2 separate regions of the Homo sapiens genome follow, and region 2 is linked to region 1. A link means that fine-mapping ties the variant in region 1 to the expression of a gene that starts in the linked region. Tissue or cell type: whole blood. Region 1 holds a variant in brackets; the other region holds the start of a gene. Each region is shown on its reference strand, or each on the opposite one.

What was found. PIP is the estimated chance that this variant, and not a neighbour inherited with it, causes the effect. A credible set is the group of variants that fine-mapping cannot tell apart.
Region 2: it holds the start of ZMIZ2, and the variant in region 1 is the best candidate, but not a certain one, in a credible set for the expression of ZMIZ2 in whole blood (TOPMed, PIP 0.72).

The regions. Positions count from the first base shown.
Region 1 is chr12:19,710,823-19,713,730 of GRCh38, reverse strand. No RefSeq gene overlaps it. Among named protein-coding and RNA genes, the nearest start is that of AEBP2, 270 kb to the right of the region's middle. The variant A/G (reference allele first, on the strand shown) is at 1,728.
Region 2 is chr7:44,747,506-44,750,413 of GRCh38, reverse strand. ZMIZ2 (zinc finger MIZ-type containing 2) reads right to left here and starts at 1,567. Exons shown (of 19, transcript NM_031449.4): 1 at 1,423-1,567. RefSeq lists silencers at 1,263-1,312, 1,323-1,432, 1,543-2,072.

The DNA of each region.
Region 1 (2,908 bases):
ATCACGTTCTTTGTAGGAACACGGATGGAGTCCATAGTTAGCAAACTAACCCAGGAACAGACATCCAAATACCACTTTCTCACTTATAAGTGGGAGCTAAAGTATGAGAACACATGGACACATAGAGGGGAACAACAGACACTGGAGCCTACTTGAAGGTGGAAGGTAGGAGGAGGGAGAGTATCAGGAAAAATAACTAATGGATGCTAGACTTAATACCTATGCAACAAACCTGCACGTATACCCTTGAAATTAAAATAAAAGTTTAAAAGAAGAGTTATCACCTTCTTTCAACTGGTTCATTTTAGGAATGTGTAAAATATTGAGCCAGAACTTGGTAGTGCAGTCAATATCCTCAGAAGAGAGTTGTTTTCTCCCAAATAACAGAAGATGTTTTACAGAAAGAACCTTATTAGCACCAGAATTTAGGTTTGTGATAAGTGGTTGAGTCTAAAGATTTGTAACAATGAAACATATCACTGGTTCTCATCTTGAAAACTGAAAACAAAAGGAATATTTCTTGGCCTAGTACCTGTGGTGTTTAACTTTTCACTCTTGCTTCCAGTTCTTTAGTTATAGCCCACAGAGAGAATATGGTAAACAAATCATTAAGCTATTTGGTTTATCATAAAATACTTCCATTTGACCATTTGACACACATTAATTAAGTACCTATTACATCGAGGAACTAGACTGATACAAAGATGAATAAGATAATATCTTGTAAGAAAGAGAGACAGACATGGAAACAACTGCCCTACAGCATACACAATGTGAGCATTGTAGAACAAAATGGAATGGAAATGTGGGACGGTATTCTAGGCAGCAAGACACGTATGCCAAAGACATGGATTGAGATAACCAAACGAATTTGGGGAACTGTGAGCAACTTGTCTAGGTAGACATGTGGAGCTAGGGAAGATGGTTAGGAAAAGTAATTGGAAGTATAGATTAAGGCTGAATCATGTATAACCTTTATTAATTAATGAATGAGTATTACTGGGCACTTACTATATGCTAGGAATCATGCTAGATAATGCAGCCACAGCAGTGAACACAGCAGACAAGATCCCTGCCCTAGATTCTGGTATATGCAAGGCTGAGACCTTAGTCTAAAGGCAACAGAGGTAAGCAGGGAAAATGGCACAAACTGATTTAGAAAGTTAACTCTTTTAAGAATATATAGAATAACTGAAACAGGAAAAACTAGACATAGTAAAATGAGTTGGAAGACTACTACAATAGACCAGATGAGTCCTGTTTCTGATCTCTTCCATTAAATATTACGGTCTCCTCATACATGAGTCTTCATCAGGAATTTGTAGAGAATTTTAATTCAAAATATCATTTTACTTGATTCAGTTCTCACAAAATGTGAGTTAGTCCTCAAACCTTAACAAATTTCTACACCAACAATATATTTTTGTTGGATCCACATCATGTTGCACCACTAGCAACTCTTAGTCATCCTGACTCATTTCCTGAACTTTCAGTTGCTTCAAACGAACTTCATTTTGTCTAAGAGTCGAGACAGACAGAAGCCGCCTATAAGGGCCCAGTGAATTCTCAACATCAAGAGGACTTCCAAAGTAGTAGCTAAGTCAAGACTCCTACCATTACCAAGATAATTAGAACCTCCAGGATATATGATCTTCCAAACTCTACTATCCGTTTTGTATGTATCACAGAGTCCCAAAAATTGCCCAAAGTCCTGGAATTTGTATGAA[A/G]GGGCCTAAGAAATTCATTCTTTTTTATATGGAACTTCACACACTTACATCCATTGCTTCATTTATTCCCTGTAACAATCAACGGAATAAGGCAAATTTGACATAATCAGACCCATTTTAAACATGGAGATACTAAAACCAAGGGAGATGAAGACTTTGACCCAAAGGTGCATTCTAGTTAAGAAGCAGAGTAAGAGCTAGAATCCAGAGCTTTTGACTCCTGGACCATGTTTTGCTTTACCTCCATGCCATCTCCTCAGCCATCAATCATTGTCTCTCTCCTACTGTGCCTACACAGCTGCATAACAATTCTTTGCTTTCTTAAAGGTTAATGAACAACCTCTTCTATGTTAAGCTAGCCTTCCTGAAGCAATTTCTCTTGTTTTGTAATACTCAAAGCCATCCATGTCTACCGCAAATAAAATCTCTTCTTTCTCTTCTTCATGATTCCCTTCATCCTCCTCTCCAACCTCCTCAGGGTTCCAGAAAAATTGAACCCTAGTCAACCCACATTGACCCTAGGAGGATTCAGGCTATTTTTAGATCAAGACTGACATACTCAGGCAGCAAAGAGAGCCAGTGAGATGCCAAACTTAGTATTCACCCTGGAAATGAACAAAAATGGGAAGCAAGCTGGCCAGTTCAGCGTGCCTTCAGATTTATAATAAATTGTCTGAGAGAACTTAGTGAATTAGCAATGACTCCATGCCAGAAATTCTTTGCCTCAGCCAATCCTGGAACTTACTCCGCTAAACCTAGGCCACCTGAGGTTTTTCAAAAATATTACTTTCACATAAAGTCCACATAGCTCAGCCACTGCTGCCAAGAACAAGTCCTGGAGAACGTACTGGCAAGCTTGGTGCTTGTCCCACTGGGTAGTCACATGAGCTGAGAGGCAGCACGTAAAAGACAGAAACTCTCTTAAGTAGGCGTCAGAAATCCTAGATTCCTTACCACTTCTGAGCCATGTGACATTGAGAGAGTCACTAGGAAGATCTATGGCCACAGCTGTGGAGTGTGCAGCTTTTGCTGTCAGCCCCTTCTGGGGCTGTCTCAGTCTCAGCCATAGAGAACCGTCTCCCCTAAAAGTCATATCCTTCTAGGGGCAGCCCACAGTCAAATGACTGATTAGGGTTAAAAGGACTGGAAATGTTGGCCCAATGCAAGACATCCCTGCCAGG
Region 2 (2,908 bases), not on the chromosome of region 1:
TTGGTAGCAAAAAGTGGGGTACTCACATATACAGGTAGCTGAAAGTCCTGCCCCCTCTACCTGTAAGGCCACAGTACTAAAATGTCTAAGCGTGGGGCTAAGTCAGGATGCAGAGTTCATCAAAAAGTCCAGGAATAAGCAATGGCCCAGGCATGAGACATTTCAGTGAACAGCTGAAGGGACAACCTTAACCTGGCATCAGTTTACAATGTGTAAGATGGATATCTGGTAGCATCCTAGGACTGAGGACACATGACCACCTTCATGTCATCAGCCCTTGGGAGCTCAATCCCAATAATCAGGATGCTCCCCAAACATCTTAGGCCTGTCCTTCAGAAATCTACAACCGGCAACTGTCACCTGCTTGTTCTCTTCATTTACACTTCCAGCTTGTAACTATCCCCTGGGCATGACAAGGGCTAGAGGTCAGTACCTCTGGAAGTTAAGATTCCTTCACTTCTCCTGTTTCCACACTAAGCATCAAGGGATGCCCTCTGGTTCTAGCTTGCCAGAACTTGGTGGTGAGTCTGTGTCCATCCTATCCGTAATCACCACGGTCTCAGACCAAGTCACATGTTCCGTGTGTGTCCCTGTGAAATCTGCGATGACACAAATTAAAGACACCACCATGGATGTTCTGTAATACTGGAAAGAGGGTACCCTAGGGAGAAGGAGAGGCAGAACACTGCAGGGCAGAGGGTCCAGGGAATGGGAGGAGAGACACGGTAGGTGGAGGGGTAAACAAGGCACCGGGTGGGGGTGCCGCGGTGAAGGACACCTGGCACTAGGGAAGACAAGGCACCTCAGGGGAGCAGGGCATCCTCACGCCTGAGCTTCAGTATGTCCAGTTTGGAAAGGGGTGTCCCCATCAAAACTGGCAGCTGGGGGCTGGCCGCTCAGCGTCGTTCAGCCCAGGAGCGGAACAGCTCCTCCGCGAGCAGGTGACGGCCTCAGACGGCCCCCACATCGCCGTGCTGGTGGGCACGTAAGTAGGAGCGGAGGGGCGTACCATGTAGGTGAGACTGCCTGGCCCCAAAGCTAGGAACGATCAGGTTGGAGCGAAGGCCCGGCCAGCCTTCATCGCTCAGGAGAACCCCGAGCGCCGCTTACACCCCTCGGCCAGCCTCCAACAAAGACTCAGGGGAGGGCTGGATGACCCTGACGCCCACGGGGCCGAGCCTGCCCAAGACCACGACGCACGCGTGGCAGGTGCCGGCAGGTGGGCGGCAGAGCCTCTAGCCCCAGCCCAGCTGTGAACCCTACCGTGGCGCCGCAGCGGAACCGGGGCGCCCCGGGCGACCAGCTACACCTGCCTGCCCGCCCGCACCTGCCGGCCCGCACCTGCCGCACCTGCCTGCCCCCGCCGGCCCACACCTGCCTGCTGGCGGCGTTGCCAGGGGCCACCCCCAGGACCCCGCTCACCTCCGCCCGGCCTGGCCCGGCCCCTCGCCGTGGCGGCCCCCGGCCCGCGCCGCTCCATGCGCTCAGCCCGCCCTCCGCGCCGCCCGCCGCCCCGGGGCCGCCGCCACCCGCGCCATCGCGCCGCCGCCCGCTCCGAGGGCACAATGGAGCCGCCGCCGCGCCGCTCATGCATATGCATGACGCCGCGCAGCCGGCCCCGCCTCCCAGGCCAGAGCAGCAGAGCCCCGAGCCGGCGCTCGGGGCGGGGGCGGCCGCGAGCCCGAGCGGCCCAAAGCGGCAGGGTGGGGCCAGGGCCGCAGGTGGCTGGGCGGGCAGGAGACGCAGCCTGATCGCGACCTGCGCCCCCAGCCCCCTCCACACCTTTCTGAACGCGGCGTCGGCAGAGCCACTGCGCTCTTCCTGCTCGCAGTCCGCCGGGAGCGGGGCGGGGCCGGGCGGCGGAGGCGGGGCCAGGACGCCGGGGCGGGGCCGAGTGGAAGGCGGGGCCAAGGTGCCGGGGCGGGGTCGGGAGGAGGAGGCGGATCCAGAGAGCCGGGGTGGGGCCAGGGCTCGGGGCGGGCCCCGGCGGAGGAGGAAAGGAAGAGTGAGTCCTTGCCCTTCCCCCACCCGCCCCGCCCGCGCCCCGCCCGCGCCCCCCCTGCTTCCTGGGAGTCCATTGCTCTGGCCCGGCGGGCGGGGACACGACTGGGAGACAGAGAGACCCAGGGTGCCACTTTTGGGAGGGGATCTTATTAAAGGACTCCGGAAGCCCCTCGTTAAAGCAGAAAACTAAACTTAACAAGTTCGCTGTCCTCACTGCTCAGTTCTCTCTTCCCAGTGGTTCTCCTTCTGGAAAAAGTCACTATTGAGCTAGTCTAGCCTGATGGAATAGCCTCTCTGATCAGTTTCGATCTTTGAAATGCTATTATCAGCCTTTAAGTTATTCTTGACTTTTCCTACCGTAAGTTGAGGAAGACCACATTCTCTCAACTACCCATAATTAATTTTTCTTAATTGTGGTAAAATACACATAACGTAAAACTTACCATCTTAACTGTTTCCAAGTGTAGTTCTGTGGCACCAAGTACATTCACATTCTTGTGCAACCACCAACCGTCTCCAGGACTTTTTCATCTTCTCAAATGGAAACTCCATACCCAGTAAACACTAGCTCCCCATTCTTTCCTCCTCCTAGCCTTTGGCATTCACTATTCGTCTCTAAATTAGACTACTCTAAGGACATCGTATAAGTGGAATCATACATTATATGTCTTTTTGTGACAGTCTTACTTTAGTTAGCACAGTGTCCTCACTTCCATCCATGTTGTGGCATGTGTCAGAATTTCTTTCTTTCTTTCTTTCTTTCTTTCTTTCTTTCTTTCTTTCTTTCTTTCCTTTCTCTCTCTCTTTCTTTCTTTCTTTCTTTCCTTCCTTCTTTCCTTCCTTCTTCCCTCCCCTTCCCTTCCCTTCTTTTTTTTGACGGAGTCTCACTCTGTCGCCAGGCTGG